Linked DNA regions of Homo sapiens: all the other regions are linked to region 1. Evidence: fine-mapped expression QTL. A gene starts in region 1. Each other region holds a variant in brackets. All regions are shown on one strand. Distances are between the middles of the regions.

What was found.
Region 2: its variant is fine-mapped to the expression of SNAI3 in whole blood (INTERVAL, PIP above 0.99).
Region 3: its variant is fine-mapped to the expression of SNAI3 in whole blood (INTERVAL, PIP above 0.99).
Region 4: its variant is fine-mapped to the expression of SNAI3 in whole blood (INTERVAL, PIP above 0.99).

Annotation. Positions count from the first base shown.
Region 1 is chr16:88,682,997-88,691,094 of GRCh38, reverse strand. SNAI3 (snail family transcriptional repressor 3) reads left to right here and starts at 4,588. Exons shown (of 3, transcript NM_178310.4): 1 at 4,588-4,764. The coding sequence starts at 4,689. It overlaps SNAI3-AS1 (SNAI3 antisense RNA 1), which reads right to left. Exons shown (of 4, transcript NR_024399.1): 4 at 3,909-4,304. RefSeq lists silencers at 1,221-1,395, 4,308-4,767, 4,818-4,977.
Region 2 is chr16:88,659,947-88,668,044 of GRCh38, reverse strand. MVD (mevalonate diphosphate decarboxylase) reads left to right here and starts at 4,954. Exons shown (of 10, transcript NM_002461.3): 1 at 4,954-5,034. The coding sequence starts at 4,965. SNAI3-AS1 (SNAI3 antisense RNA 1) reads right to left here and starts at 4,672. Exons shown (of 4, transcript NR_024399.1): 1 at 4,645-4,672. RefSeq lists silencers at 4,290-4,449, 4,790-5,209 and an enhancer at 4,660-4,709. The variant T/CTTTTTTT (reference allele first, on the strand shown) is at 3,454.
Region 3 is chr16:88,532,816-88,540,913 of GRCh38, reverse strand. It overlaps ZFPM1 (zinc finger protein, FOG family member 1), which reads right to left. Exons shown (of 10, transcript NM_153813.3): 9 at 7,979-8,098; 10 at 3,883-7,766. The coding sequence ends at 5,935. Among named protein-coding and RNA genes, the nearest start is that of ZFPM1-AS1, 5.8 kb to the right of the region's middle. RefSeq lists enhancers at 618-1,220, 6,368-6,929, 6,930-7,490 and a silencer at 6,267-6,726. The variant C/T (reference allele first, on the strand shown) is at 3,575.
Region 4 is chr16:88,608,104-88,616,201 of GRCh38, reverse strand. ZC3H18 (zinc finger CCCH-type containing 18) reads right to left here. Exons shown (of 18, transcript NM_144604.4): 7 at 7,151-7,268; 8 at 4,666-4,934. Among named protein-coding and RNA genes, the nearest start is that of IL17C, 26 kb to the left of the region's middle. RefSeq lists an enhancer at 5,112-6,057. The variant CCGCTCG/G (reference allele first, on the strand shown) is at 4,884.

The DNA of each region.
Region 1 (8,098 bases):
CAAGGGCTCCCCTCAGCACCGGTCACTCTCCCTTGCCTGTGCTGAGGCATTGTGCAGTTTCATGTGTCTTACGGTTGGTGTGGGTAGGGACTGTTCTAACGGGCAGCACAGCCAAGCCTGCAGCCTGGGCACCAGGAGGACACCACGCTCAACCGCCCATGTCAGGGGCCAGAGATGAGCACTTAGGGGCGTATCTCCCACCCAGGAGCCTGGGCTGCCCGCACTCCCTGCACTTCCTTTAATCAGACCATTCAGGCATTTGCTTGTGAACCTGCAGTGACCACTCCCCATTCCCTGTGCATACGGCCCGTTACCACACACTGTCTTCTCTCTGCCTGACTCTTCACTTCTGCCCTGTGGGATCTGGGGACGGAGGATGGCCCTTCCCACTCCTGGCGCCCTCCCTGCCCAGGACCTGTGAGTAGTAAGTCTTTGAACATGTTTCCTACTGCAGTGGGGACTGAATTTGCACCTTCCACAAGGAAGAACCAGGGGCTGCCCAGGCTGGGTTTTCTCGGGGACGTGGGGGACAGAGGGCAGGCTCCCAACACCAGAGCGATGGTCAGGCAGGCATAACCTGGACGTGAATCAGACAGGAGCCACGGGGCGTCTGCCAGTGTGAGCAAGTTTCCTGGGGGGACTCATGGTTGCAGGTCAGACAACTAGGCATTAGGCCATCTGCCAGGCAAACGACACATCCCGGGAAAGGCACACGGCAAATACCATGTCCATCCCCTTCATCTCCCAAGAGCACAGGGCTGCCAGCCACCTGGCACTGGCACTGAAAGCCACTTTCGCTGGGGGCTCTGAAAACAACCCTGTCTGCCTCTCAGAACCCCCATATCACACAGGATGTGTCCACTGAACCCCAGCTTAAGAACCACCCTTCCTGGCCAGGTGCGGTGGCTCACGCCTGTAATCCCAGCACTTTGGGAGGCCAAGGCAGGTGGATCACCTGAAGTCAGGAGTTGGAGACCAGCCTGGCCAACATGGTGAAATCTTGTCTCTACTAAAAATACAAAAATTAGCCAGGCATGGTGGCACATGCCTGTAATCCGAGCTACTTGGGAGGCTGAGGCAGGAGAATCACTTGAACCCAGGAGGTGGAGGTTACGGTGAGCAAAGATCACGCCACTGCACTCCAGTCTGGGTGACAGAGTGAGACTCCGTCTTAAAAACAAAAAAAAAAACAAAAAAACAAAAAACCACCCTCCCTCTGACAATCCGGCCCTCAGACGGTGGTGTGGGCAGCCATAAACAGTAGTGAGTTCCCCTTCACGGAGGGGGACCAAGCACACAGTGGCGCCCGGTCTGGCTGGATGTTGAGATTTCAAGCACTGGGTTCAAGTTTCCATGGGCCCATGACCTTGGGCCGCATGGGATTGTCCCTCGATGTCTGCCTCCGCATGGGATGTCTGCCTCGATGAACTGCCTTTGCTCCTACAAGAGGGGCCATCTCTCTGAGTCCAAGGACAAGCAAGGCCCAGCTGCCAGACTCTCCTTTGAGGGCCTGGGTCTTCACCTGAGTGTCTCCACTCGAGACAGACAGGGCCTACGTGCCCCCAGAGCATGGGGCAGGGCCTCTAGAAAGGCCACACTGTCTGCAAGCTCCTGCTTCTCTTCCATCCAGTTCAACAAGCCCTGCTGAACCCCCAGCATGCACCTGACCACAGGCGGGCATTGTGCAGGTAGCAAGGGCTGAGCCCCTCCTGGTCTAGCTCTCAAGGACTGTGTTCTAATTCGGAGTGAGGGTTTCCAAGGTTTGGGTCATAAAGCCCTATGAGTAAAAAACGAGCAGTGGCTCCCGCCTGTAATCCCAGCACTTTGGGAGGCCAAGGCAGGAGGATCACTTGAGATCAGGAGTTCAAGACTAGCCTAGCCAACATGGTGAAACCCAGTCTCTAGTAAAAATACAAAAATTAGCCTGGCATGGTGGTGCACACGTGTAATCCCAGCTACTTGGGAGGCTGAGGCAGGAGAATTGCTTGAACCTGGGAGGCGGAGGTTGGAGTGAGACTCCATCTTAAAACAAACAACAGTCAATGGTGACAGAGATGTCTACCGTGTTGGATACCTGTGTGCACATCTCCAGACACTATGGTTACAGTCACTGTAAAACCAGAAAGGCAGGAAGACATACGTGTAGGAAGGATGAAAATGTCAACATAAATGGAACTCTAACCGTTTTTGCCCTGACCGGCAATTCTTGGGGTGGGCTACCCACTGGAAAACCGCTCTTGGGTGTCGGATGGAGGCAGATGGGAGGGGCCAGGCTGCCGGGCCCAGCACAAGTCATCATCCTGATGTCCTAGATGTCCAGGGAAGGGGGCAAGGACCTGGGTCGCCTGCTGCAGTTCAGGAGGGCGGGTCTAGCAGGCTGTGGGCCGTGGGTTTCCCCACTCAGGGGCACGTCAGTTTAACCCCCAGAGCCAAGCTGCCGGCAGTGAGGAACGGAAGACACGGAAAGGATGGAGACGGCCGCCCTCCCCCAATCCCCACCCCCGAGGCTGCACCTGTGGGAAGGGGGACGCTGATGTTTCCCTCTGTGGGGCCTTCTTGGGTCCAGCCTGGACACCGCCCTGTGCATCACAGCTGAAGAGTGAGTCTGCAGCCGACTTGAGTGTCCCTGGGGGGCAAGTTGTTGCGGCAGCCCTGGGACCCCACCCCAAAGGTGCTCGCAGGCCCTCTAGGGCGTTCCCGGGATGAGATCAGCCATTCTCCTCGGGAGGGCTACAGCAGCCCTGAGTAACACCAGGCTCTAGCTGGGATTAGGAGATAAGCTTGCTGGGGCTTGGCGGGTGGCCACACAACGGGTAGGTGGGCGGGGAGGGACGGTGTGGGTGGAGGCTTGGCTCAGGTATCTGCAAGCGTTATCTGTGTCTGCGAGGGAGAGAGAGAAGGAAGGGAGGCTATAAATAGAAACCTTTCCAGGCGAGGAACAGGTGAATAAGCAGAAGGCAGGCATGTGTCCTCTGAAATCTACACTCCCGGCGTGGTGGTGCCAGGCCATGCTTGCAGGAGAGGCGGGCACCTTCTTCCAGGGGCACCTCCACCTGTCCTTCCACTCCCCCTCACCAAGTGGCAGACAAGCTGGAGTGTGGCTGGGTCCCAATCCCACTGTGTCCTAACCTCTCACAGCCTTGGTCTTCTTTTTTGTTTTTTTTTAATTTTTTGAGACAGGGTCTTGCTCTGTTGTCCAGACTGGAGTGCAGTGGGGTCATCATAGCTCACAGCAGCCTCCACCTCCTGGAGGCTACTGCAACAAGCAATCCTCCCTCCTCAGCGTCCTGAGTAGCTGGGACTGAAGATGGGTGTTGCCACGCCTGGCTAATTAAAATAATTTTTTTTTTTTTTTTTGTAGAGACGGGGTCTCATGTTGTTTTTCAGGCTGGTCTCAAACTCCTGGGCTCAAGCAGTCCTCTTGTCTCAGCCTCCCACAGTGCTGGGATTACAGGCGTGAGCTGCTGAGCCCAGACTCACAGCCTAGTTTTTTTTCATTGGCAAAGTGGGGCTGATACTAGCCCAGCTTTTCACACCCTGGACGTGTGATGTGGGACGTGGGATGCTGGTGTGGCACGGCCCTCCTCCCTGCTGTCTGTCCCTCAGAGCTTCCATGGACTCACCACCCCCCACCTTCTCCACCCCCGGCCCACAGGGGGCAAAGGCCACCCAGCTCTGAGGTGGAAGCCCTGCTGGGGAGGCAGGCCGGCGGCACAGCCAGGGACACCCTGTGTGCACGCCAGCCCAGAGACGGCCCCACCTGGCCCCCAACGTTATGAAATGTCCATGTCAAAAGAGACCCAGACACTGGACACAGCGGCTCCCAGCTTTTTATGACCCTGAGGGCTCTACAGGACCACAAAGGAGGGAAACGGATTGCCCAGGTCACACGTGCAGCTGTTGCAGAATTCACGTGATTCACCGGTTTTATTAAACTTCCCATAACCATGTCTGACCCCCTGGGAATTCCAGAATTCCAGGCCAAGTCCTCCGTCCCCCAAAAAACAGCTTTCTGGAGGCACTGGACAAACTCCTAAAGGGCTGACTCCAGTGGGGGAAGCCTTCGGAGACTGCAGCCCATCCAGAAAGGACCACTGTCTCCAGGCCACCGGTCCCGGGCCTGTTCCAGAGCCGCCAGTAGGGCTGGTCACTAGGGTCAGCTTCGTTTCGCCTGGGCTCTCCCCATCAATCCTGTCCTGTGAGTTTGCAGAAGGGATGGGGAGGCGAGGCCAGGCCGCAGAGTGAGCGTCATTCTCCGCAGCAAGGGTTCTCCAAGGACCGCGCTCGGCCGACGCTTCCACATTCTGTGGAAGAGATTCTCGCTCGGTTTCCACACAGCTTTGAACTCTGCCCTTCACTCACGGCGAGTGGGTGGCCAGGCCCGACGGGTCGGTGTGTGACTCGGCGGCGCGCACGCCAGAGAATTCCCGTGGGGAGGACACCGGCGGCCACGCGCTCCCCGCCCCGTCCCGCCCGCGCACCTGTCCTGGGCGTGTTGCCCGAGACCCCGCCTCGCCCTCAGTTCCGCCCCCGTGGCCCCGCCCCACTCGCGCCGGGCGCTGGTTGGCGGAGGCGGCGCGCTATGCTAATGAGCCTGACCCCTTCAAGCGCCGGCGGACGCAGCAGTCCGGACCCAGGCGCGCCCCTCCCGCCCCAGCCCACCCCGGCCTGCCGCCCGGGAGGGGAACATGCCGCGCTCCTTCCTGGTGAAAACGCACTCCAGCCACAGGGTCCCCAACTACCGGCGGCTGGAGACGCAGAGAGGTACTGACTACCCGATCCCCGAGCCCCTGCCGGGACTCGACCCTGAGGGGCGGGAGAGAGAGAGAGGCCCCTGGGAGCGGGGGCTGGGGAGACACCTGTCCCAGGTGGGAGGAGAAGGAGCCAGCGCCTCTGCGCAGCGGCTGCGGCTGCAGGGAGGGAGGTGGCCCACGGGCGCCTCCACTTCAGGGCACTGAGCCCCGCCTCCGGCAGGGCGGGCGGGATTCTCTCCCAACTTGGAGAAGTTTTCTAAGTTTTCTAAGCCCCCAAGTCTCCCTGGAACTCACCCCTGATATACAGCCGCCCGTCCCAACCACTACAGCCCCAGCTAAAGGCACCCTGGAGTCATCTTCCTGGCGCACACGTTTGGGAGGGGTCGCGGGGTGGTGGGTGGGAGGGAAGGAGGGCCGTCTGGGGCGGCCCGGCTCAGGGACCCCCGGAGCATGCTGACTGGGGGTGTAAGCACAGGGGATGGTGAGAAGGACACATGGGCTCTTTCTGGTGCAAAGGCACTGCCCCTCCTGCATTCAGTTCAGGTGAGCCTCCGCCCGTGGTCTCCCTCCCTCCCCCACCTCCCTTCACCCCAGAAGCCCTCCTGCTCACCCCGGCAGGCTTGCCTGGGCAGGCTGGGCTAAAGGGCTGCAATCCTCCACACACCGGCTAGGCTGGGGAGATGGGTGCCCAGCAACCGGGCTGCCCGTTCATTCCCACTGCCTGCTAGGCTTAGGGACACGAGAGAAGAGGACTCTGTCCTTCAGAGGACAGCCTGCCACACGGGCGGTGAGAGCAGTCCCCACCTGGCTTGGCAGCTTCTTGGGACAAAGGCCCACTGAGGGGCGCCGGCGGACGCGGTGGTCGGGACTCACGCTCTGTGGCCGGTGGGGGAGAGCAGGAAGGGCGCTGTTGGGGCTGTGGCCCCCAGCAACACCGCCAAGAGGCCTTTATCCCAGCTCAGAACCCAGAGTTGGGGATGGGGGGGATCCCACCTGGACCCACACCCGAGGCCCGGGCTGCCACCAGGGGGTGCCAGCTAGGACCATGCTTTTCAAATGTGCATTTTGAAATCAGTTTCATCAGTCACCCCCAGCAATTTTGTAAAATAAAATAGAGCAGAAACTGCCGGAGTGCCTGGCTCATGGTGAAGGACACTGGCTTCTGTTATGTGTATGTGGATGCGCATGTGACTACACATGTGTGCGGAATTTACATGGGTAATAGTTGCAAGTTTCAAAGTGTTGCTTAGGGTCCATCCCAGTGTGCAAATCTGGGTAGCTGTGCTGGGCCCAGTGGGCAACTGTCGTGAGTAGCCGTGCTGCCCCGCAGTGCTCTCTGCTCCCCGCCCCCGCTCCCCTCCTCACTGTAGCCCCAGCTGCCTGGCTTTCTGACAGCCAGGGGGCCCTGGCAACTTTCTGCCAAGATGTTACCCCAGGATAGACCTGAGGTGCTGGGATTTGGGGCCCCTCAATCTCTCCTTTTAAATAAATGGCTCCTATGGCTCCCCAGGGAACCCCTGAAGCCAGCAAGGTACTTAAACAGTCTCTTCAGCTGGGTGTGGCGGCTCATGCCTGTAATCTCAGCACTTTGGGAGGTCGAGGACGGCAGATCACTTGAGGTCAGGAGTTCGAAACCAGCCAACATGGCGAAACCCCGTCCCTACTAAAAATACAGAAGTTACCCCGGTGTGCTGGCGGGTGCCTATAATCCCAGATACTCAGGAGGCTGAGGTAGGAGAATCACTTGAACCCGGGAGATGGAGGTTGCAGTGAGCCACGATCGCGCCCCTGCACTCCAACCTGGGCGACAGAGCGAGACTCTGTCTCAAAACAAAACAAAACAAAACAGTGTCTTCTCCCCAGGATCTGGACCGCAGCATGAATAAAAAGGCAAGCAAAACCCAGAGAGTATGGGGAAAGCATTTAAAATCCCAGCAGAAACACATGGTCAGCCTGACGGGGCGAGACTGTCTCTTGCCCCGTCCTGCCTCTGGGCTCAGCCACTGGGCCCACAAACAGGGTCCTGGCTCTGTGACAATACCTGGAGGCAGAAAGGTGGCCATGTCTTAGAGATGGAAAAAAGAAATGGTGACTTTTTCCTGCAGAGAGGCCCCAGCAAAGCCGGGAAACCTGGGGCTCCCCCAGTGCTGTCTCCCCAGAACTCTCTTGGACGCTGCCTCTTAGCCTGTCATTGCCGTCACTTCTGGGTGGACAGAAACCTGATGACTCTGTAATTAGGAAAACTGAGGGTGGGAGGAGGTCAGGTCAGGAGAGAGTGGCAGATGGGAGGCGTTCCTTTGAATCCCCTATTCCTCCTCATCCTCACAGCACTGGTTATTGTCAATTTTTTTCAGTTCTACTGGGTGTGAGCATCTCATTGTGATTGCGATTTGGGCTTCCCTGATGGCATTGAGCATCTTTGCATGTGTTCATTGGCCATTTGTGTATCGTCTTTGGAGAAATAGTTATTCAGATCCCTTGCCCAGGCCGGGCGCAGTGGCTCACACTTGTAATCCAGCACTTTGGGAGGCTGAGGTGGGCAGATCCCTTGAGGCCAGGAGTTTGAGACGAGTCTGGCCAATGTGGCAAAAACCCGCGTCTACTAAACATACAAAAATTAGCTGGGCATGGTGGCAGGTGTCTGTAATCCCAGCTATCAGGAGGCTGAGGCAGGAGAATTGTTTGAACCTGGGAGGCGGAGGTTGCAGTGAGCTGAGATCACGCCATTGCACTCCAGCCTGGGCGACAAGAGTGAGACTCCAGCTCAAAAAAAAAAAAAAAAAAAAAGGCCAGGCGCAGTGGCTTATGCCTGTAATCCCAGTACTTTGGGAGGCTGATGCAGGCGGATCACAAGGTCAAGAGTTCGAGACCAGCCTGGCCAACATGGTAAAACCCTGTCTCTACTAAGAATACAAAAATAAGCCAGGCGTGGTGGCGCATGCCTGTAATCCCAGCTACTTGGGAGGCTGAGGCAGGAGAATTGCTTGAACCAGGGAGGCAGAGGTTGCAATGAGCCCAGATCGTGCCATCGCACTCCAGCCTGGGTGACAGAGCGAGACTCCATCTGGGGGAAAAAAAAAATTAGCCAGGCATGGTGGCGCACACCTGTAGTCCCAGCTACTTGGGAGTCTGAGGCAGGAAAATCATTTGGACCTGGGAGGTGGAGGTTGCAGGTTGCAGTGAGCCGATTTCACGCCACTGCACTCCAGCCTGGGAGACAGAGCAAGACTCTGTCTCAAAAAAAAAAAAAAAAAAAGGGTGGGGGGCCAGGTGCGGTGGCTCACGCCTGTGATCCCAGCACTTTGGGAGGCCAAGGAGGGTGGATCACGAGGTCAGGAGATCGA
Region 2 (8,098 bases), 23 kb after region 1:
TATCAAATTGTTAACTCCTCTGGAATAAACATTTCCTTGTCTTTTTTTAATTTAAATTATTATTTTTAAAATGCCCATATTCCCTGAGTCCTCGCTTCTTTTTACCTCTCCAATCGCCTGGCTTCATGGTGTTTCACATTTGCTGACTGCTTCCAGAAAAACATTCCCACTGAAGGCCTCCCAATGCAAGGCAGATATAGAGCAAGCTAGACACATGCCTTCCTTTCCAGTTGCTTTCTGACTTTTTAAAGTCCCAGATGCCTGGGCTTGGGGAAAGGACAGGAAGCGCCAGGACGCAGGAAGCCCCGGGGATCAGCAGTAGGATGCTGTGCAGGCTGTGCTCGGGGCCCCTCTGCTGGCCTGTCCAGGCCAAACCCCCAGGGCTGCAGGCCTGGAACCAGGCAGGACATGCTCAGCCCTGGCTGGGCTTCCCCTCCTTGCCCCAACACCAGTCAGGGCCCACCCACGGGCTCCAGCTGTCTGGCTTCCCATTCATCTCCCAGACCCTCTCCCCTCATGAATCAGTGCCACACACAGCCTACCCATACCATACTCAGCAAAGCACCCATGCCTGTGGCTCAGGTGCGGTGGTGTGATCAGAGCTCACTGAAGCTTTGAACTCCTGGGCTCAAGCGATCATCCTGCTTTAGCCTCTCTAGTAGCTGGGAGTACAGGTGTGCACCACTACGGCCAGCTAATTTTGAAAAAATTTTTTTGTAGGCTGGATGCGGTGGCTCATGTCTGTAATCCCAGCACTTTGGGAGGCCTAGGCGGGTGGATCACGAGGTCAGGAGATCGAGACCATGACCATCCTGGCTAACATGGTGAAACCCCGTCTCTACTAAAAATACAAAAAAATTAGCTGGGTGTGGTGGTACACACCTGGAGTCCCAACTACTTGGGAGGCTGAGGCAGGAGAATCACTTGAGCCTGGGAGGCGGAGGTTGCAGTGAGCCTGGGAGGCGGACGTTGCAGTGAGCCTGGGAGGCGGAGGTTGCAGTGAGCCGAGATTGCACCACTGCACTCCAGCCTGGGCAATGGAACAAGACTGTGTCTTAAAAAAAAAAAAAAAAAAAATTTTTTTTTTGTGGATATGGTGGAGTCTCGCTATGTTGCCCAGACTGGTCTTGAACTCCAGGCCTCAAGCAGTCCTCCCAAATCCCAAAGTGCTGCTGGGCTTACAGGCATGGACCACCATGCTTGGCCTATTTTCGACACACATACAGGCTGAGGTTCAGGAGAGCTGGGCTACAGGCGTCAGGGTGGGGATCGATGTGTGACATCTTTCAGGGAGGTAGTTTATCCTAGTTCTCCACTCAATAAGGGAGTCTGCCCACAAGCACACTGTCGGCACCCATTGCTACATGGCTCAACTGTGAGTATAACTTAGATAATTGTAATAATGAAAATAAGGAATGCTGATGGAGGGATAGGATAAGAAGGTATGTGACTGGGAGATGGAAGAGAATTCCTTATTTCTATTGAGTCATAATCAATAGAGGTTATCTAAAACTTAAAAAAATAGGGCCAGGCACAGTGGCTCACGCCTGCAATCGCAGCACTTTGGGAGGCTGAGGCGGGCGGATCACAAGGTCAGGAGATCGAGACCATCCTGGCTAACACAGTGAAACCCCGTCTCTACTAAAAATAACAAAAAAAAGTAGCCGGTCGTGGTGGTGGGCGCCTGTAGTCCCAGCTACTTGGGAGGCTGAGGCAGGAGAATGGCGTGAACGTGGGAGGCGGAGGTTGCAGTGAGCCGAGATCACGCCACTGCACTCCAGCCTGGGTGACAGACCGAGACTCTGTCTCAAAAAAAAAAAAAAAAATAATAATAATAAAAACGCCAGGCATGGTGGCTCACGCCTGTAATCCCAGTGCTTTGGGAGGCCGAGGCAGGCGTATCACTTGAGGCAAGGAGTCTGAGACCAGCCTGGCCAAACATGGCGAAACCCCGTCTCTACTAAAAATACAAAAATTTGCCGGGCCTGCTGGTGCACGCTTGTAATCCCAGCTACTTGGGAGGCTGAGGCATGAGAATCACTTGAAACCAGGAGGCAGAAGTTGCAGTGAGCTATGATTGCCCCCCTGCACTCCAGCCTGGGTGACACAGCGAGACTCTGTCTAAAAAAAAAAAAAAGAGCAGCCTGGGCAACACAGTAAGACCTCCATCTCTACAAAATAAAAAATAAAAATTAGTCAGGAGTGGTGGCACTTATCACAGCTACTTGGGAGGCTGAAGTGGGAGGATCACCTGAGCCCAGGAGGTTGAGGCTGCTGTGAGCTGATGGTGCCATCGCACTCCAGCCTGGACAACAGAGTGAGACCCTGTCTCTAAACAAAAATAAATTGTTTTTTTTTCTACTGGACTTAAACAATCTGCCCTCCTTGGCCTCCCAAAGCACCAAGCCTGTGTCTTCTTTTTCATCACAGCCGTGGCAGAAGGAAGGAGGTGACTGGAAGCCCCACTCTCTCTGAGTAGCTGAGGGAATACACCCTGACTATAGGCCGAGACAGTCCACATCAGCTCTTCAATAGGATTTAGTGGCTTTGCATAAAATGGAAAAGCAGCTGTGATTGCAAGAGAAATTAAAAATAACCACCATCTGAAATGCAAATTGAAAACAGTGAGACAACACATGTCACTCTGGCAGGTGACCCACTGTGCTGGTGAAGGCATGCAGGCACTCTCAGACTTCCGCAGAGAGACCTGAGTAATCAATTGACTTCCACAAAGGGCGACTTGCCAACAGCTATCAAAAGTACTCAGGCACATCCCACTTGGCCCAGCAATTCCACTTCCAGGAATTTCTCCTGCAGAAATACATGTGCACAAACAACGTAGGAAAGCACTGTTTATAGTAACAACCCAACTAGGACAGACCAGGTATATTTAGACAACAAACAAGGAAGCTTTTTACTAAATTGGGATGATCTCTAAGAAGAAGGTACGTAGAAAAAGCAAGGTGGGAGAACACGCTATGTGCTTGTACTATGCACGTCAATGAAAAAATACACAAAGAATTGACAGGCCAGGTGGAGTGGCTCACACCTAATCCCAGTACTTTGGAAGACTGAGATGGGAGGGTTCCCTGAGGCCAGGACTTCAAATCAGCCTGGGCAACATAGCAAGACCCCCCCACATCTCTACAAAAAAATTAAGAAAAAAATTAGCCGGGCATGGTGGTGTGTACCTGTAGTCCCAACTACTGAGGAAACTGAGGTGGGAAGATCCCTTGAGCCAGGAGGTCGAGGCTGCATGGAGCTTTGATCGTACCACTGCCCTCCAGCCTGAGCAACAGAGTGAGAAAAAAAACAGACTTTTTTTCTATTTCTGGAAAAAAATAAAGAATTTATAAGTATGATGGTTCTGGTAATAGAAGTAGGTGGCTAGGCAGAGTGGACACTTCACACTGCATACTCCCCTATTTTCCGAAATCTGAGTTTTTTTTTTTT[T/CTTTTTTT]TTTTTTTTTTTTTGAGATGGAGTCTTGCTCTGTCACCCTGGCTGGAGTACAGCAGCACCATCTCGGCTCACTGCAACTTCCGCCTCCTGAGTTCAAGCAATTGTCCTGCCTCAGCCTCCCCAGTAGCTGGGATTACAGGCGTGCACCACACGCCCACCTAATTATTGTATTTTTAGTAGAGACAGGGTTTCACCATGTTGGCCAGGCTGGTCTCAAACTCCTGACCTCGTGATCCGCCCACCTCGGCCTCCCAAAGTGCTGGGATTACAGGTGTGAGCCACCATGCCCAGCCAATCTGAGCTATTTAAAAACTAAAGGTAAAATTTTAAAAGGGGAAGGGGAAAATGGGAAGTCATTGTTTTAAGGGGACAGAGTTTCTGTTTGGGGTGAGAAAACTCTAGAAATAGTGGGGGCGTGGCACATGATTGGAATGAATGGCAGGGAACGGCACGCTTAAATGTTCCTGTACGTTTCACAGGAGAAGTCAATGCACACACAAGCGCCGCAACCCAGTCCAAGGCTTTGCTCCTACAGGGCCTTACAGGGGGTATTTGAGACGCCCACCTTAATGCAGGTTGGACCCAGCTCCGGGCTGCGGGGCTTCCCCGCCCCGGGGTCTTTCGTGTGAGCCCCGTGGCGGGGGATCCTGGCCCAGGACATGGCGCGGAGAAGGCTGTGGGCGGCGGGACAGGGTGCCTTCGGCTGCCGGGTTAAGAGTGGATCCCGGGATACATCCTCCAGCGCCTGCCCTCGGGCCTGTGTGCACCCCCATACCCAGCGGGGCCGTCCAAGAGCTTCAAGGAGGGCACAGCGCGACCCGCCCTCCCCTCAGCCCCGCACACCGTCCCACGGCCCCGCACAGCCTCCCTCCCACACAGCGCCCCACGGCACCCGCACAGCGCCCCACGGCCCCTTCATGGTCCCCGCACAGCGCCTCACAACCCGCACACAGCGCCTCACGGACCCTTTACGGCCCCCGCAGAGTCTCCCACACGGCGCCCCACACAGAGCCTCACGGACCCCGCACAGCGCCTCAAGGTCTCCGCACAGCCCCCAGCACAGCGCCTCACACAGCCCTTCGCACAGCCCCCCGCACAGCTCCTCACGGGCCCCACACAGCTGCCGCACAGCCCCGCACAAGCCCGCACAGCACCAGCAGACAGGTAGCCCCCACAGGCAACAGCGCCCACCTCGCCGCGCCCAGACCCCGGATCGCCGACGCGGACGCCAGGCGCCTGGGCACACGGCGCCTGCGCAGACAACACCACGCCCCAGGCCTGGCGAGCGCACCCTGCGGGTGGGGCGGACCTACGTCAGCAACCCATCGTCCGATCCCGTCCATTGGCTGAGAGGTAATGCGTGCGCCCGACTCGCCGCTGATTGGTCGGCGCGCGAGCAGCCGGGCTCGCACGGGCCAATCCTGTGGTAGCGCGTGAGGAGGCAGAGGCCTCTGGGGTGGGATCGCGGGCCGTAAGTGGCTGTGGAGCTGGGGTCACTGCGCGGTGGGACCATGGCCTCGGAGAAGCCGCTGGCGGCAGTCACTTGTACAGCGCCGGTCAACATCGCGGTCATCAAGTACTGTGAGTGCCGCGGGCCGGCCTGGGACGGGGATGGCCGGGAGCGAGGCCGGGTACGCGGGGGTCGCGCGCTGATTCGGCGGCGCGCTCCGTCCTGCCCTCCCAGGGCCTCGACAGACGGGGAAACTGAGGCTCAGGGAGGGGCGCGGCGGTGGTCGGGCGGGGCCGCGCGCTCCTTCGCGTGACAAGCTCGGCGCCACCCGTTCCCCCGCGACGGCTGCCGCCCCTGCAGGGTCGCCCGGCGCCTGCCCATTAGCGATTACCGAACTATCGAAATCATCAATCATCGATTCCCATGAATCGTAAGAATCCGCCGTGGTGGTGCGCGTTTGTGGCTCCAGCTACTCGGGAGGCTGAGGCGGGAGGATGGCCAGAGCCCGGGAGGTCGAGGCTGCAGTGAGCGGAAATCGCGCCACTGCTCCCCCAGCCCGAGACCCTGTGTCCCTCCCTCGCCCCGTTTCTCCCAGCGGTAACCTCCAAGGAGCGGTAATGGGGGGCCCGCAGGCCCACATCCGTGCCGGGGAGGCCGGTCCGCACCTGTGCGTTCACAGCCCCGCCCCTCCCCTCGCGCCGGGGTTACCTGGCCGCCACTGACCACTCATTTCTGTAACGTCATTTCAAAATGTTCTGAAACTGGAATCGCAGTTATGTGGCCCACCCAGTATCTTTTGAGTTTGGCTTATTTCATTCAGCATAGAATGTGGACGTGCCCCGGGATTGTATCAGTGCTTTGCCCCTCTGTTGCTGAGCCAGTCCGTGGAATCCATGGACCACCCTCTCTCTAGCCAAGGCCTCACCCCGCAAAGAGCATCTAACGTTTTCTTTCTTTCTTTCTTTTCTTTCCAGAAGCCGCCACCACGACTGGCTAATTTTTTTGTGTTTCCCTTACCAATAAAGCTGCCATAAAATGTTGTATACAGGTTTTTGTGTGAACATACATTTCCATTCTTCTGGGATAAATGCCCAGGAGTGCGGTTGCTGGGTCAGATGGTAGATATATATATATGCCTCTCTGTCTCTCTCTCTCTTTCTATGTATATATGTATGTTTGTGTGTGTGTATATATATATACACCTGTATAGATATATGTGTGTGTATATGTATACACCTATATAGATGTATGTGTGTGTATATATACATATATATATTATATATATACTTTTTTTTTTTAAAGAAACTGTCTAATTGTTTTTCAGAGTGGCTGGGCCATTTTGCATCCCTACGGTGATGCAGATTTTCCGCATCCTCACCAGCATTTGGTGGAGTTGCTGTTTTTCATTTTAGCCGCGTCCTGGTAGGGATGTGCTGGCAGGGTGCTGTGGTCCTCATTCGCGTTTCCCTGTTGGCCAGTGACGTGGAGCATCTTTCTTTGTGCTTATTTGCCATCTGTGGGTTTTCTTGGTGAAATCTCTCTTCATATTCTGTGTCCACGCTCGAACTGGATGGTTTGCTTTTTTACTATAAGTTTGGAGAGTTCATTACACATTCTAGGCTGGGCACGCTGGCTCAAGCCTGTAATCCCAGCACTTGGGGAGGCTGAGGTGGGCGGATCACCTGAGGTCAGGAGTTTGAGACCAGCTTGGCCAACATGGTGAAACCCCCGTCTCTACTGAAAAAAAATAAAATATGTATTCTAGATATTAGTCTCCTGTTGGACATGTGGTTTGCAGGTATTGTCTCCCAAACTAGCTAATCTTTTTGTCCTCTTAACAAAGAGCCAGTTTTTCATTTTAAAGAAGTTCAGTGTATCAATGTTGATGTCAAGTCTAAGACCTCTTTGCTTAGCCCTATGTCCTGAAGATTGTCTGCTTTCCTCCAAGTTGTACAGGATTGCCTTTTATATTTAAGTCTGTGATCCAAGGTTGTCCAGTTAGCCCAGAAAGGCTATCCTTCCTCTATTGAATTGCTTTTGCACTTTTGTAAAAAAAAAAATCAGCTGGGCATGTTTGTGTGGGTCTATTTCTGGATTTTCTCTTCTGCTATTTTTTTTTTTTTTTTTTTTTTTTTTGAGACAGAGTCTTGCTCTGTCACCCAGGCTGGAGTGCAGTGGCACAATCTTGGCTCACTGTAACCTCCGCCTCCTGGGTTCAAGCAATTCTCCTGCCTTAGTCTTCTGAGTATTTGGGACTACATGCACGTGCCACCACACTTGGCTAATTTTTGTATTTTTAGTAGAGATGGGGTTTCACCGTGTTAGCCAGGCTGGTCTGAAGCTCCTGACCTCGTGATCTGCCCACCTCAGCCTCCCAAAGTGCTGGGATTACAGGTGTGAGCCACCGCGTCTGGCCTTTTATTTTTATTTTTTATATTTATTTATTTTATATTTATATTTTTATATTTATTTGTATTACTTTTATATTTATTTTTTTGAGACAGACTGTCACTGCGACACCCAGGCTGGAGTGCAATGGCGTGATCTCGGCTCACTGCAACCTCCGCTTCCCGGGTTCAACCGATTCTCCTGCCTCAGCCTCTCGAGTAGCTGGGACTACAGGTGTGCGCCACCACACCTGGCTAATTTTTGTACTTTTAGTGGAGACGGGGTTTTGCCATATTGGCCAGGCTGGTCTTAAACTCCTGACCTCAAGTGATCTGCCTGCTTCGGCCTCCCAAAGTGCTGGGATCGTAGGTGTGAGCCACTGAGGCTCACCAACAGTGATATTTATGGAAACGTGTCCATTTTCTTGTAACGTTCAGAGACTCTGGTCTTCTTTAAACCTTACGTTTGAGCTGGTTTTTGATAGCGCGCTGGTGGAGGAGGGGGTGCTGGCTCAAGATAAGGAGGCAGAAGTCCAGGTTCCCCTCCCCACCAACGCTGTCCCATCCCCACCAGGCCCTCAGGAATTCCTGAGTGTCTGCTTGGCCTCTGACAAGAGCCGGCAGGTCAGGGGAGTCCAGTCTCCCGTGTGCTCTCCAATGACTCCTGGGGAGGTGAAAGTCCCCACTCCTTCAGGGAGGGAAAGGGGGCGGGGCACTGTTCCAGCCTGGAGTGTGGGAGGGATCTGTTTCTTTTTTTCTTTTCTTTTTTTTTTTTTTTGAGAAAGGGTCTCCCTCTGTTGCCAGGCTG
Region 3 (8,098 bases), 150 kb after region 1:
AGTGTGCACTCCGCGCAGGGCAGGACACGGCCCTTGGGCAGAGATCTGGGTCCAGCTCTCTCCCTGCCCCGCCCCTGCCTCAGCTGACGAAGGCCTGGTGAGCAGGGCTGTGTGTGCTCCTGCTGGTGAGCTAGTGAGGTCGGCGCCCACGGTCTGGGCACCTGCTGTGAGTGCAGGTCTCACACGTGCCAGAGAGCAAACTGCTGGGAGCTGGTTAAATGCAGATTCCCAGGCCCTGGCCGGCAGGGAGGGAAGCAGCCAGACAGAAGCTGCTGCAGGTCTGTGGGCAGTGCTGGGGAGGCCTGGGGCTCTGAGGGGACAGAGGGGCTCTGAGGGTGCCAGATGGGGAGGCCGTGCTGGTGCGAGGGCCGCCGTGTGCAAGGCAGGGCTCAGGCTGTGTATTTCCCTTGCATCTTGGTGGTCACTCCTGTGACCCTGGGCAAGTCACCGTGCCTGGGAGCCCCCTGCTCCCTGCCCAAGGACAGCATCAGAGGATGTGCCTCCAGGGTCGTGTTGGAAGCAGCCTGGAACAGCCCTGTGAGGTTGGGATTCTGCCGGGTTCGCCACTCTCGCCAGGTCCAGGCCACCTGGCTGTCTGGTGGCCAAGCTCCTCCCGGGTGGCCAGTCACCTCCCCTGCTCCTTCCCTCGCTGTGGAAATGGATGCGCTTCCGAAAAGCTGCGAGACCTCCTGCTCTGCGCCTCCCTCCTCCATGCGTCCCGCCCTAACCCTAACCTCTGCCCGGAGCTCCCGACCCTCCCTGCCCCTGCCTGGCTCACCTCTGAGACACTCCCAGCCCGAGGTCCCGAGGCGAGTTCTGTCCACAGCTGCATGGTTTGCTCTTCTCTTCACCTCTCCCTGGCACCTCCAAGGAGGAGGGGGTTGGGTGTTGAGGGGGTGAGGCTGCCTCCTCCCAATCTTCCTCCCTCCCCCTCTGCAAGGCCCCGGCAGATACAGGGCAGGCCAGAGTGCAACGGCTTTGCTGCCTCCTGGCGTCCTGAGGCTCTGCCTGAGACTCCAAAGCTGGGCTCTCCCGAGGGGTCGGCTTGCGGGGGACAGGTGGGGACCGGTTTTCAGAGCAGACCCATCCGACGGTTGCCAGCTCACGCAGCCCCCCAGCCACAGGTGATGTCCTGCTCTGCATGTTGGTGTCCTGGTGTGGGAGACAGGGCCGGCAGTGGGGGCCCTCTCCACTCCCACCCTTCCTCAGGCAGGCTGGGGTGGGCTTCTGCTAGGCCTGAGCTTTCTGTAAGCCAGGGCGTGGCTGGGAGCCAGTGCCCAGCAGTACGGCTGGTGGTCGAGAACCGAGTGCTGGAAGCCAGCAGAGGGATGTGTCCTGGCCCAGCTGTGCCCGCCAGGTGCCTGGGCAGGAGGTGTGTCCCGATGGAACCTTGGGGCCCTCGTGCACAGTCAGGGCACTCAGCCCATGGTGTGGCTGAGAGGACAGACCCTGTGCCTGGCAGAGGAAGGGGCCTCAGGAGGGCGAGGCTGCCCTGCATCATCTCGTGGACGTTGTGTCCCAAGTAGCGTGAGGGACTCCCGGCAGGCTGGGCTGACCCTGCCTGGGAGTTGCCAGCCTGCAAGGGGCTTTGAGCTGTATGCAGCTCAGGTAGAAGGGAGCAGGTGCCCTCCTGGAAGAAGGAGGGTGGAGGCGGGAGGCCCATCCTGTGCAGGGCAGGGGACGGGTACAGCCTGGCTGGGTGGCCCTGAGGGGGACCTTTTAAGCCAGTCTTGAGGAGAGAAGGAGTTTCACAGGCAAAGCTGGGGGGAGTGGGGAGGGGGGAGGAGTGGGGAGAGAGCAGCTTGGAATGCAGCGGTCCGAGATCCAAGAAGCTCAGGTCACACATGGGACTCAGTGGACAGTGTGATTGGAGAGTGGGCTGTGACGGTGGCCGTGTGCCATGAGTGGACAGTGTGGCTGGAAAGTGGGCTGTGACAGTTGGACTGACTGCTGGGCATGGGGAGGGGCTGGCTGTGGTCCACACACACCCCTGTGACTTCAACAGATGCAGACCCCTCCTCTGTGTCGGCCACTTGTGGGTGCCTGGGAGGCAGAGGTCAAGCAGGCGCAGCCCCAGCTTTCAAAGGAGACAGGCCAGTAGGCGACGGGCAAGAGGACAGAGATGCAGAGTGACCGTTCCTACGTGGGAGTGAGCTGGGGACAGAGGTGCAGAGTGACCATTCCTACACGGGAGCGAGCTGGGGACAGAGGTGCAGAGTGACCGTTCCTACGCGGGAAGTGAGCCAGGGACAGGTCTGAGGGGGCACCTAAGCTGAGAGCTGGATGACAAGGACAGCCTCGGAGGAGTAGAGAGGGCATCAGGAGGCACTGCCTGGAGCAACCAGCTGCAGCATGGAGCCCAGCGGGTGGTGGGCTTAGCAGGGCCAGGGGCTGCCGTCGGGACAGGCCGCCAACGGGAGGCTCCTCTCCTCTGTGCTGAGGCAGAGAAGGGGGACTTCTGACCTCTGAAGGATGGGGCCAGTAACAGAAGGGGTTTTACGCGAAGCACAGGCACCTGGGGGCGGGGACGGGCCTCAGAGCAGGGTGAGCCTGGGAGAGGGGAGCGGTGGCAGCTGTGTGAGGAGTGGACCCTCGAGATTTGGAAGCGGCTGTTCAGAGAGACTCAAGGGTGAAGTCCCAGGTCTGGGAGTCGGCGATGGTGGATGGGTTTGGGAAGCGGTGGGATTTGGACAAATCAAGCATTGCTTTGACAATGAAGGGTGAATAGGCAAGGCTGATGCTCTCCAGCTTGAGGGGCAGGGGGCCACTGAGGATGCCTATGCAGGTGAGGGGAGGAGACAGGTGGGCTGGTGGGGAGACAGGTGGGCTCGGGGTGATGCCTGTGCAGGTGAGGGGAGGAGACAGTGAGCCAGGGGGGTGCTTGCACTGGTGTGGGGAGACAGGTGGGCTTGGGGGAGGGGAACACCTGCACAGGTGTGGGCAGAAGTTACAGGTGCGTGGGGTTACAGTCACTCATGGTACATCAAGGGCCTGGAAGGACACAGGGGCTGTAGGTCTGCAGGTCTGGGGCTCAGGGGAGGCGTGGCTAGACTACAGAATTAGTGGAGAGAAGACCATGAGCCCACCCCAGGAGTGTGGAGGGAGAACTTCAAGGGGAGACCAGGGCAGACTCAGAGCCTTGAACCTGGCTCAGCAGAGAACCAGCTGGGGGGCCGAGGGGGTGTCTGTGAGCAGGGCAGGCAGCTTCCTGGGGAGAGGCGGGAGAAGGCCTGGGCCACCACCGAGTCAGCGGCTACAGGGGAGGCACAGGGTGGAGGCCCAGGCGGTGGTCTGGTGGGGGGAGACTGGGGTGATGGCTTGAGGGAGTAGGGGTGACTGATGGCGTCTGCCAGGTGTGGGGGCCCCAGGGTCTGTGCAGAAGACGCGTGCCCGAGGCGAGTCCTGGGTGCGATGGGGACGGGCTCTGGCCACACGCCAATGACCTGGGACGGGCGATGGCAGCGGTACCCAGCCCTGCATGGTGGGGACAGTAGGGGGTTATGCAAGCCAGGACAGGCGCAGGGCCCTTCGTGAGGCTCAGTGTGCTGCCCTAAGCTTCGAGTCCGGGCCGTGG[C/T]GGGGCCCTCTGGGGTGACTTCAGGTCTGGGTCCCGGTCACAGGGTCCTTGCTGCCTCTGAGATGAGCCCCCAGGAAGGGTTGCCAGGCCCGAACTCCCACTCCTGCGGCACAGGTGTGGACACTGAGGCACGTCTGGGTGCATGGCGGGTTTGTGCGGCACTGCTGGGCTGTCTTCCAGATTCTCCTCTGCGTCTTGCATTCCAGGGCCTCGCTTGGTCAGGTTTGGGGTGGGGCTCAAAGGGGGTGAGGACACTGGAGTTGTGTTTTTTACCCCCTTTGAGCACCTGTCACTCACCAGAGACTGTATTCGTAGTTTCTAGACACCTTTAAACAGTTTACTTTTAAATGTACACACAGTGACAACCCCCCACCAGGTTTCTATTTTTTAGAACATCTTGTACCCTGCGCCCGCACCTGGGGAGGACTTGGGGGCAGAGCCTCCTGAACCCTCCACGCAAATTCATGCACAACAATGCAAATGATGAGCAGACTTGAGGGGTCCGTGCCTCCCGTCCCCGCTATCACCTGGTCTTCAACAGAAGGGGTGTCTGTGAGGAAAAGGCTGCTTGCCTTCCCTGGAGCTCAGGTCCCTGGGAGGGGGTGGAAGCCATGTCTGTCCATTGGCCTTGGCTACGGGCCCCATCTGGCCAGACCCTAGTGGGCAGGTGGACAAAGACATCAGAGACCACTGAAAGCGCTGCAGACCCAGGCCCACGAGCTGCGGGCAGGAGAGCGAGCCCTGGACTGGCTGGGAAGTGCCTCGGGCTTCTGAGGCAAGAGGCCGCTGCCTTCTTTGCCTGCACTCACCAGGGCTGCTGGGCAAAGCTGAAAAAAATGCAGCTAGTTCAAGTAGAGTTGGAAATGGGCTGGGAATGGTAGCTCGCGCCTGTCATCCTAATGTTCTGGGAGGCTGAGGCTGCAGGAGCACTGGAGGTCAGGAGTTTGAGACCATCTTGGGCAACACAGGAAGACCCTGTCTCTATAAAAATGTTTTAAAAGTTAGCCAGGTGTGGTGGGTCAAGCCTGTAGTCCCAGCTACTTGGGAGGCTGAGGCAGGAAGATGGTTTCAGCTCAGGAGTTTGAGGCTGCAGTGACTTATGATCGTGCCACTGAACTTCAGCCTGGGGAACCGAACAAGACCTTAGCTCTAAAAAATATAGGGTTGCCCAGCCTGGGCAACATAGGGAGACACCATTTCTACAAAAAACACAAAAACTAGCTGGGCATGGTGGTGTACACCTGTAGCCCCAGCTACTGAGGAAACTGAGGTGGGAAGATCACTTGAGCTCACGAGGTCAAGGCTGCAATGAGCCGTGAGTATCCCAGGGACTCCAGCCTGGGCAAGAGAGTGAGACCCAAAAATAAAAAAATAAAGTGACGTTGGGAATAGAAGAGTGTTTTTGTTCTCCAGTGAGAAAGCACGCTGGAGGCTGCCCACAGCCACCCAGCTGCAAACGGCACGGTGACACCGTGGCTGAACGCGGTCAGCCAAGTACTCCCTCAGTGTGGCCGGCCCATACAGCCCAGCAGGGCAGGGAAGACGGGGGGTGGGGGTGCCCTGACCCTTGCACCGACTCAGCCACCACAGGTGACTCCACCACACGGTTGTCCTCAGCCCTGGCTCTGAGGGAGAGATGCACCCACCAGTGAGCATCAGGACCCCCTCGAGGCCAGGGAATGCTTCGGCCTCGGTCTCCCTCTCCTGTCCACCTACTCGCCTGTTCTTCCCCCAGCCTTGGCCACCACAGGGCTTCATCCTCCCCAGGGCGCCCCCACCCCTGCCATCCCTGGTGGTCTGTGACTGGATGGGGGACATCGGACCCCCAGGACCATGCAGGGTTGGGGGATGGCCAGCCAGGTCAGTGCCCCTCTCTTCCGTGTCTGGCGGCCAAGTAGACCGTGGAGAGGGTCAGCAGTGTGGAGGCTGCTCTCCCTAGGGGGGTATGGACAGGGCTGGGGTGGGGTAGGCCCAGAGCGGCTGGCCCTGCAGTGGTTCAGTGTGTGCTGTGGCCTCCGACCTGACGCTCGGTCTAGCTCTTAGCACCCAGTGGTGTAACTCCGGCAGGGGCCCAGCCACTCCGGGCCGCAGTGGCCTGTGTACACAGCAGGGCTGGATGTGACACTGGCTGCGTGTGCCTGCTGGCTCAGAGAACTAGGCTGGCCCACCACCATGCTCATCAAACTGAACTTCTTTATTAAGTGCCAAGGGTCCAGGCGGGCGCTGCCCCCTGCGGCCCCCTCCGCCGAGGCCTGTGCGTGGCGGGGTTCCCAGGAGCGGCAGTCCGTGCGGCCTGGGGGCGGCCCCCTCCCCGCATCGCAGCGGGGCGTGCAAAGCGTCTGCGGCTGTAGTGTGGGCGCTCACTTCACGTGCTCGGCGGCGTGCGAGGAGCAGTAATACTTCTTGTGGGCGATGAAGGTGGACAGGCTGCTGAACTTGATGTTGCAAAGACGGCAGTACCGGTGGTTGCCGTTGGGCAGCGGCGCCGGCGTGCCCTTGCTGGGAGTCTGGACGCCCTTGTCCGAGTAGGAGGGGGGCGCCGGCGGGGGCGGCACGGCCTCGGGCGCGGCGGCCGGGGACGGGGGCGGGCCGGGCGGCGGCTCCTGGGGCTCCGGGCCGAGGCCGTCCCGGGGGCCACGGGACCCGGGCTGCGGGGAGGCGGCGGGGGCGGGAGCGGGCGAGGGGCCGCGGTCGGCCGGCGTCCGGGCCTCGACCCCCGGGCCGGCCAGGGGCGCGCCGAGCAGCAGGCCGTGCGCCAGGCGGAAATGCTCCAGCAGGTCCCCGCGCACCGGGCCGTTCGGGGGGCAGTAGGGGCAGGCGGCGGCGGGCAGGCCGAGCGCGCCGGGCGGTGGCGCAGCGGGGCACGAGTACTTCTTGTGCGCCAGGTAGGCCTCGAGGCTGTGGAAGCTCACGCGGCAGGCCGTGCACTCGTGGTAGTCGGCCAGCGCCGGTGCCGGGGCTCCGGGGAGCGGGCGCCGCGGCTTCTTGCTCAGGTCGATGGGGCCGTCGGCCGCGGGGCCGGGCGAGCGCGCAGGGGCGAGGCCGGGGCCGCTTCCGCTTCCGCTTCCGGGCCGCGGCGACTCGGGCGCGGGGGCGTGGCCGGGCGGCGGGGGGGGCGGGGCGCCGGCCGCGTGCAGCTCGTAGAGCTTGCGGCGTCTGCGCGTGCGCACAGGCGCGGCGGGAGAGGGGGCCGGGGGCGCGGCCGGCCCAGGGGGTCCCGGGGGCGCGGCCGGTCGGCGCGGCGGCGGGTCGTGGCGCGAGGCGCAGTAGTACCGCTTGTGCACGGTGTAGGTCTCGTGGCGGCTGAAGCGGATGTTGCAGGCCTCGCACAGCGTGCGGCTGGGGTCGTCCTCCGCGTCGTCCACGGAGCTACCCGGGCTCTGGCTGCCCTCGCTGCCCCGGCCGCCCGCGCCGTCCTCGGGCGTGGCCGCGCCCCCAGCCCCCTCCTCGCGCGCTCCGGGGCCCGGGGACGAGCGCGGCGCGTCGGGTTCGGCGGGCTGGCCGGGGGGCGCGCGGGCCGGGCCGGGGGGCGCCTTGGGCCTGCGCGCGGCAGGCGCGTCCTCGGGCGCACGGCGGCCTGAACAGTAGAGGCGCTTGTGCACGTAGTAGTTGTTGACGTTGCTGAAGGTGATCTCGCACTCGAAGCACGTAGCGCCCTTGGGGGCCCCGGGGAAGAGCCCGGTCTGCGCGCCGCCGGCGCCCGCGCCCGCGCCCTGCTGCAGCCGGCTGTGCACCAGCTCGGACATCTTGGCCAGGATCTCCGAGGCGGGGGGCGCCGCGTCGGGCCCGAACACGTACTGCGGAAGGAACAGGGCCCCGGCCAGGCCCAGCTCGCCGGGCACCGGGCTGGAGCCCGGCGTGGGGCTGGACAGCTCGGCCTTGACCCTGGCCGGGGCGGGGCTGCGCGGCGACGGCGTCCGCGACGGGGCCTGGGGCCCAGGCTCTCCGGGGCCCAGGATGGGGGCCGCCTCCGGCTCCTCCACCGCCTCCACCTTGATGCTCCTGGGGGCCGCCGGGGGCTCGCTGCTGCCTCCATTCTGGGCCAGAGGCTCCGCTCTGGCCTCTCCGTTGGTGGCCTCGGCCAGGGCCTTTCTGTCCAGTCCTGGCGATGGGGTGGGCGCCAGGCCCAGGTCCGCGGAGGCCAGGGGGCCTTGCAGGGCCGTGTGCTGCTGCTGGAAGCTGCCCAGACTGTCTGCAGAGAGATCGCAGGGGTGGCACCTCAGGCCTGGGGCAGGACCTGGCCGGTCAGAGCTGGAGGGCGAGCTCCGGAAGGGGAGGGGTGGGCGGGAGTGGTTTAGAGCGAAGGCTGAAACGGACCCCCACCTGTCTTGGGCGACAAGCCCACTCCCTTCCCACTGCTCAGGGGGCCTAAGGGGCAGGGGTGGCCCCCACAGGGCTGCTCACCTGGGGGCAGCTTGGTTGCTGGGTGTCCGGCCCCTGGCGAGTAGATCTCACCCTTGGAGCCAGGCTGGCAGACCATGTGGTTGGTGACCAAGTGGCTGTAGAGGATGTCCCTTGTGGTGG
Region 4 (8,098 bases), 75 kb after region 1:
CCAGATCAGGCCAGACAACGTCTGAGCACCTCCCAGTCCCTTCCTGAATGTAAGACTCCTCTGTGAAGCTGAGGGCTCAGGGGCTGGCGATGGCAACCTGCTGCCTGGTGGCCATGCTGGCAGAGTTACCCTCTCCAAGCCTCCTGGGATCCGTCACCCGCTTTCCTCTGGGGAGGCTGAGCACACAGGAGACGGGCACAGCAGTCGGGAATCTGCCCTCCCATTCCGCGGGTCACTAAAGTGCGGGCCACAGCAGAGGAACACAGCAACCTTAGGCATGGCGGCCCTCTAACGCGTACTCCAGAAGTACATTCTTGTACACAGAAAACATCCCTGAGTTGGAATTACAGACTCCTGACTGGGAAGAGCCCCCGGCTGCTTAGAAACAGGCAGAATACATGACTAGGGGCTGGGGAAGGGGGTCTGTGGCCAGGCACGTGTGCCCATAAGCCACCAAAGTGGACATGCTGACGGACTCATAAACCCAGAGCCACACAGCACAGTGACCTTCCACGTGGATATCACTGCCTTTCTATGTCTCTGCTTCTAAAACCAATGATCTGGGTGGCGTGAAAACCCCTATTTTGTGAATCTGGAAAGCAGACTCAGCTGGTTCTGTTTGTAGAAATCAATGTGCAATTTTAGCAACCCTGTAACAATCAATTATGACATGCAGGTAAAAATGCAGGCTGATACCAAATCCAAAACTCACGGACAGCACCCCCAAATGTGGGTAAGCACCAACCTGTGCGGGACTCTGGGACAGGCACAGAGGCTGCAACGGGGAGCAGGGCAGACGGTGGTGCCCCAGGACCATCTGCTGCAAGGGCTCCAGATGGGCACTGAGGGCCATGAGGAACAAGAAAGCAGGCTGGCAAGCAGGAGGGGATGGGGAGACTTCCCTGTGCAGAGGAATCTGAGCAAAACCCTGGAGGAGGTAGAGGCAGCCCGTCCGGGCAGAGGGAACGGAGGAGGTGGGGGCAGCCTGTCAAAGGCAGAGGGAACGGAGGAGGTGGGGGCAGCCTGTCAAAGGCAGAGGGAATGGAGGAGGTGGGGGCAGCCCGTCCAGGCAGAGGGAACGGAGCAGGTGGGGGCAGCCCGTCCAGGCAGAGGGAACGGAGCAGGTGGGGGCAGCCCGTCCAGGCAGAGGGAACGGAGCAGGTGGGGGCAGCCTGTCAAACGCAGAGGGAATGGAGGAGGTGGGGGCAGCCCATCTGGGCAGAGGGAACAGGAGGTGGGGCAGCCCGTCCAGGCAGACGGAATGGAGGAAATGGGGGCAGCCCATCTGGGCAGAGGGAGCGGCTGGGGGTGTGTGCACGGGGTGCTGGGCTGCACCTTTGCAGTGGGGTCTCAGGGGAGAAGGCAGCCTTAGGCTGAGTGCACACTGAAAATACTGTGTGTGCTGTAGGGGAAGGGCTTCTATCCAAAAGGGCTTGAAAGGCTGAAGAAGGCGGCACAATGTCAAGGTCAATGACGGTTTCCCCGTTTGGATGACCATGTAAACTTCAAAATAACTTAGAGATTACTGTAACATAAAAGGATTAAAAACATCTGAAATATGTCACTTATTCTGAATGTTCTTTAAGAAGATTACTTTGCCTAGTGTTAGGAAAGTATGACAAATACAGCACATTTAGGGAAGTCCATTCACTGTGAGCTGGAGAATGAAAACAGTCAAAACTGGCACTTGCCACCGGCTAAGCAGCAGCTACAGCCATGAGTGACCCTGAAACAAAGGCCTGCGAAGTCCTGCCTGAGAGCTGACTTTCAGAAAAGCGTAGATGACTTGTGTTCCACTGTACACAAGAGCGGGTGTCGTCCAGCCACACGGACAAGATGAGGAGGACAAGGGGCTTGTTTTTGTCCCGTGGTGGAAAGCAAATCCTTCCAGAGCCACAGTCGCAGGTCCTGATGGCTGCCAGGTCTCTGAGGGGAGCATGAGAACTGTGGCCCCTCCAAGTGTGGCCACTGTGTGGCTCCAGCCACGAAGCTGCCCATGCCTGCAGGTCTAGCGGAGTCCAGTGTTACTGGAAGGTGTAGGCCCAAATGTGGATTTTTATGAGAGCCAAGTCAAACAACATCCCTGAGTTGGAAGTACAGACTCCTGACTGGGAAGTCCTGCAGGCCATGGCCCTGGAAGGATCTCGGGCTGTTTCCCAATAAGGAACTGCCTTGATCCCTCCTTGCATTTCACCCCCACGGGGACGGTGACACAAACCAACCCTGAGACGGAGCAACGTTCATGCTCTCATCGACACCCCCCCTTTTTTTGAGACAGGGTCTCTCTCTGTCACCCAGCCTGGATCAAAGACCTATGTGTAAGAGCTAAAACTATGAAACTCTTAGAAGAGAACACGGCAGTAAATCTTTATGACCCTGTATTAGTCAATGGTATCTTACATGACACCAAAACCATAAGCAACAAAATAGAAAACATTAATTGGAACTGCACATCATGAACCTGATAAGGGACTTGTATCTGGAATACATAAAGGACTCTTACCACTCAATAATAAAAAACAAAAAATGAGCAAAGGATCTGAATAGGCGTTTCTCCAAAGAAGATATACAAATGGTTGATAAGCACAGAAGAAGATGCTCTCATTATCATCCATCATCAGAGAAATACAAATCGCAACGGCAGGGAGACGTCACACCCACCAAGACGGCTGTCATCAACAAGACGGACCGCAGCAAGTGCAGACAAGGATGCAGAGAGATGGCGCCCTCCTATGCGGCTAGCGGGAATGTAAAAGGTGCAGCTGCTCTGCACAACAGTTTGAGGGTTTCTCAAACAGCTAAACATAGAGTGACCATGTGATCTAGCAATTCCACACTGAGGTATATGCTCAAGAAAAATGGAAACCTATGTCCACACAAAAACTTGCACACAAATTCACAACCACAACAGCCAAAAGCTGGAAACAACCCAACGTCCATCAACAGACGAACAGAGAAATGCAATGCGGTGCATCCATGGAGGAATAAAGCACTGACCCACGCTACAACGTGGACAAATGTTAAAAACGCTCGGAGTAGAAGAGGCCAGTTACAAAACGCTGTGTATTGCACACTTCCGTTTCTACAAAACGTTCTGAATGGGCAGATACCTAGAGACACAAAGCTGCTAAGAGACTGGGAAGTGTGGGGAAAATGGAGAGTGACTGCTGATGGGTACAATGTTTCTTCTTTTTATTTTGAGACAGAATCTTGCTCTATTACCCAGGCTAGAGTGCAGTGGTGCAATCTCAGCTCACTGCAACCTCAACCTTCTGGGCTTAAGTGATCCTCCCGTATTAGCCTCCCGAGTAGCTGGGACCACAGTGGTGCACTACCACGCCCTGCTAATATTTTGTATTTTTTTGTAGAGACGGGATTTTGCCATGTTGCCCAGGCTGATCTCAATTCCTGAGCTCAAGCAATCTGTCCATCCCGGCCGCCCAAAGTGCTGAGATTACAAGAGTGAGCCACCGTGCCCAGCCTAGATTTTTTTAAAACAATTTTTAATTTTTTTTTTTTTTTAGATACAGGGTCTCACTTTGTCATCCAGGCTGGAGTGCAGCCGTGCGATTGTAGCTCATGGCAGCCTCCAACACCTGGGCGATCCTGTAATCCTCCTGCCTTGGCCTCCCGAGTAGCTGGGACCACAGGCTCATGCCACCTCCCCCAGCTAATTTTTAATTTTTTTTTTTTTTTTTTAAATAGAGATGGAGTCTTGCTTTGCTACCCAGGCTGGTCTCAAACTCCTGGCTTCAAGCAATCCACCTGCCTCAGCCTCCCAAAGTGCAGGGTGCAAGTGTGAGCCACCGCAAGGTTTCACTTTAGGGGGCAAAAGTGCTCTCATGTTGATTGCGATGATGGCTGCACAACTCTGTGAATATTCTAGAAACCACTGATTGTACACTTTAAATGGGTATGTTGCAGCGTCCATTAATTATATTTCAATAAAGTTGTAAAAAACACCCACCAAAAACATCATCCAGTACTCTAATGTCCACTGACGCCCATCCATTCTGCTCTAACAGTCAAGTATATTTGAGAGAAAAAAAGGGCTGTCCTGAGCCCCAGCGCCTGCCTGTCTCATGGGTCTTGACTGTGCCCCCAGCAGTTGGCAGCAAGGATCATTCTGCACCCAAGGCACCCACTCCGCAAAGGAAAAACAGCAGCCCGCCCGGCCCTCCCCTGCATGCTGGCTGCTAGAGTGCCTCACCCTGGCCAGCAACACGGATGCCCCACAGCACCTGAGCCCAGTCCCAAGCTCTGGGGGCCAGGCATGCTTTGGAATTCAGAACTCTCCTGAGAACAGTAACATGGTGCCCAGGGTGTGAGTTACACACCGTGCGTGGTATACAAGGGCAGCGCCTATTAAAACACACCGATGTTTGCACGTGGACTGTAAGCATTTTCACATCAGTGAGATCCTCTAGAATGAGAACAGCCTCCCAGGAGCTCAGGGCAGATGTCACGGCCTTGGGAGTTTTACAGAAAGGCCCTGCGTTGGAGAGCTCTGGGTTTGGAACTATGGGCTCGGGCTGTGGGCCTGCACTGGTCCCCTGGGCTCCAGAGCTGTGGGCCACAGAGGGGAAGCGCAGGCCAGGGGGACTAGGTACAGAGCTGCATGCCGGACCTCCCCCACACCCCTGGGCTTCAGGAAGCAGGGTCTACCTTGGCGGCTGCGGGGAGCGGGGCTTGGGCTTCCCCTTCTCCTTCTCCCGCTCCTTCTCCCGGTCGCGGTCACGGTGCTGCCGGTCCTTCTCGTCCCGCTTGGCTCGCTCACGCTCCCACTCCTCCTTCCTCCGCTGCCGCTCCTTGTCGCGCTCGCGCTCCCGCTCTCGCTCGCGCTCCCTCTGCCGGCGCTCCCGCTCTCGGTCCCGCTCCCGCTC[CCGCTCG/G]CGCTCGCGCTGTCTGTTCTCTCTCTCTCGCTCCCGCTCCCTTTCCTTTGTTAAAAAGCCAAACACATGGGGACACCGTGCGTTATTTGGGTGACAGAGGCACTGAAAGCCTTGGCTCCAACACCACGCGATCTGTCTGTGTCACAGAATCACACCTGTACCCCACAAACCTACACACAAAACGCCAAGTGCTCCCGACTATGATTGAACTCTCTGCGGTGGAGTACAGAGGAGATGGCAAGAGAGAGGCAGGATCAGGGAGCACCCTCAAGTGGGGATCTCATCTCATTCCCAGCTCTCTCCTTAAAACACAATGTTAAAAACCGGGTCAGATGCCAAATTAGAGCAAACACAAACTAGGAGTGAAATCATCCCAACCACCAATTCTAGACTAACTCAGGGCAGCAATTCTGCAGTCACAGCCCGGTGTCGTTGGCACAGATGGCCTTCCGCCGTGTGGCCTGGGCAAGTCCATTTGTCCATCCAGAGACGGGAGTTCCAGGCTTGTCCCAGGTAGGTGCAGCCACAGCAGAGCACATGCCCTGCCTCTGGAGCAGAGCAGGCACCCAAAAGACTGCTCCTCTTCTTCTAGTACAATCCTCGGATGCCCTTTCCAACTTTTCCTCTGCTCTTACTCATTCATTTGCTCTAATATTCAAGGTTAAAACTGAATAAAGTCCAATCACAACGCACCTGATGGGTTTCAGGCTTGAGGCCTCTGTTGGGGAGATGCAGGGTGCACCCCGAGCCTCCCTGCTGCCCCTCCCTCGGACACAGCAGAGAGGAACGCAGTGGAAAGGGATCCCTGGGGCTTTCTCCCACCTTCCAGGGTACCCTGCCCAGGGGTAAGCAGCAGGACCCTGCAGCCCACCTGCAATGAGGAAGCTGCTTTATGGAGAGACGGGGCACAAGAGCATCGAGCAGGGGGACTTTTCTGGCACGATGGGGCCCTCTTCCCTCTGCAAGCTCACCCTGATGGGCTCCTGAGGAGACAGCCGCACCTGGTCCTCAAAGCTCATGACTGTCCCTGCAGTCACAGAACAGAACTACACAGCAGCTTCTAACTGACCCTTCCCTGGGGCAACTTCGTCAAATCACCCTAACAGCTAAGATGAGGAACTCACAGTCTGAAGCACATAACTCATCAATATGCTAAACTCTGAGGCTCAGACCAGGGAGATTTCCAGGGCGGAAATCTCAGTATAGACCAGTCTTCCATGAGAGCAGTGAGGTGCAGCAGGCCCGGAACAGACTTAACAAGCTGGCTGAAGTGGACCAGAACAGGCGCCACATCCTAAACGGGATCACTGAGGGGTGGGGAAGAGTGACACGCCCGAGCAGGGAGACGCAGGCACCCCTGGACACAGGCATCAGTAAGTATACTGGCAAATCTCATTTTCAAAACCAGGCCGAGCTGGGCACAGTGACTTATGCCTGTAATCCCAGCACTTTGGGAGGCTGAGATAGGCAGATCACCTGAGATCGGAAGTTTGAGACCAGCCTGACCAACACGGCAAAACCCTGTCTCTACTAAAAATACAAAAAATTAGCCAGGTGTGATGGTGGGCACCTGTAATCCCAGCTACTCAGGAGGCTGAGGCAGGAGAATTGCTTGAATCTGGGAGGCAGAGGTTGCAGTGAGGTGAGATCACGCCACTGAACTCCAGCCTGGGTGACAGAGTTAAACTCCGTCTCCAAAACAAACAACCCAGGCCGGGCGCAGTGGCTCATGTCTTTAATCCCAGCACTCTGGGAGGCTAAAGCAGGCGGATTGCTTGAGCTCAGGAGTTCAAAACCAGCCTGGACAACATGGTAAAACCCCGTCTCTACAAAAAAAATACAAAAAAATTAGCTGGGCATGGTGGTGCATGCGTGTGGTCCCAGCTACTCGGGAGGCTGAGGATGGAGAATCATTTGAACCCAGGAGGTAGAGGTTGCAGTGAGCCGAGATTGCACCGCTGCACTCCAGCCTGGGTGACAGAGTGGGACCCTATCTCAAAAAACAAACAAACAAACACCACACAAAAAAACAAAACCATAGCAAGAACCAGTTTTCAGGCAAGTCTTTGTTCAAATGACCATTAATGTAATCGCTGCCTCTGAATTCGTTCTCCGTAACAATCAATTTGGTTTTCAAATTGGTACATTGTGCTGGCTCTATAAGCTCATATAAAGCCCTGTATTTTTTACTGTAAATAAAAAGGGATAACTTGAATGAACAGATCATGAAGTTCATATGTGGATATTGAAGTCATACTTACTCGGTAATTATGATACGGCTCTGTTTCTGTATACTGCACCCTGAAATTCTCATACTGTCCGCCACGCCAAAACCGCTCAATTTCATAGTCATAATAAGGGTCTGCGTAAGGCTCGAGTCTGAAAAGGGCCAATGAAAAAGAACTCTCATCACTTAGGAGCACTGGCGTAAAAAGACCACACGAAACATTAGGGACAGAAAGTAACAGACCGTGACGCAGTGGGGTTTACTCCAGGAGCGCAAGGTTGGCTCAAGGTTAGGAAATCTGTTCACAAACTACATCTAAGAGCAGGCCAGAAGTCAAAGGGTTCTATTCACAGATGATAAAAATGTCTAACAAAAATTCAATAGCCTTTTTGATAAAAAATACTCAAGAAAATAGGAAGTGAGGGCCAGGTGTGGTGGCTCATGCCTGTAATCCCAGCACCGTGGGAGGCCGAGGCAGGTGGATCACCTGAGGTCAGGAGTTTGAGAGCAGCCTGACCAACATGGAGAAACCCCTTCTCTACTAAAAATACAAAATTAGTTGGGCGTGGTGGCACATGCCTGTAATCCCAGCTACTCAGGAGGCTGAGGCAGGAGAATCACTTGAACCCAGGAGGTGGAGGTTGCCATGAGCCGAGACTGTGCCATTGCACTCCGGCCTGGGCAACAAGAGTGAAACTCCGTCTTGAAAATTAAATAAGAAAAAAAAAAAAGGAAAGAAAATAGGAAGTGATACTTTAGCATGATAAAAATATACTGACACACTTTGGAACAAAAGTCAGCACCTTACTCACTGGGGAATAGGAGGAGCTCCCCCAGGAGTCTCCGCAACCACCTGTCCCTGTGTGGAGGCACCCCCTGACTGGACAAGGGGAGCCCACTAGAGGCACAAGAACACGAAAACAAGGAGCAAAACGAGCTCAGATTTGCAAAATGATATGATACTATACATGAAAAACCCAGA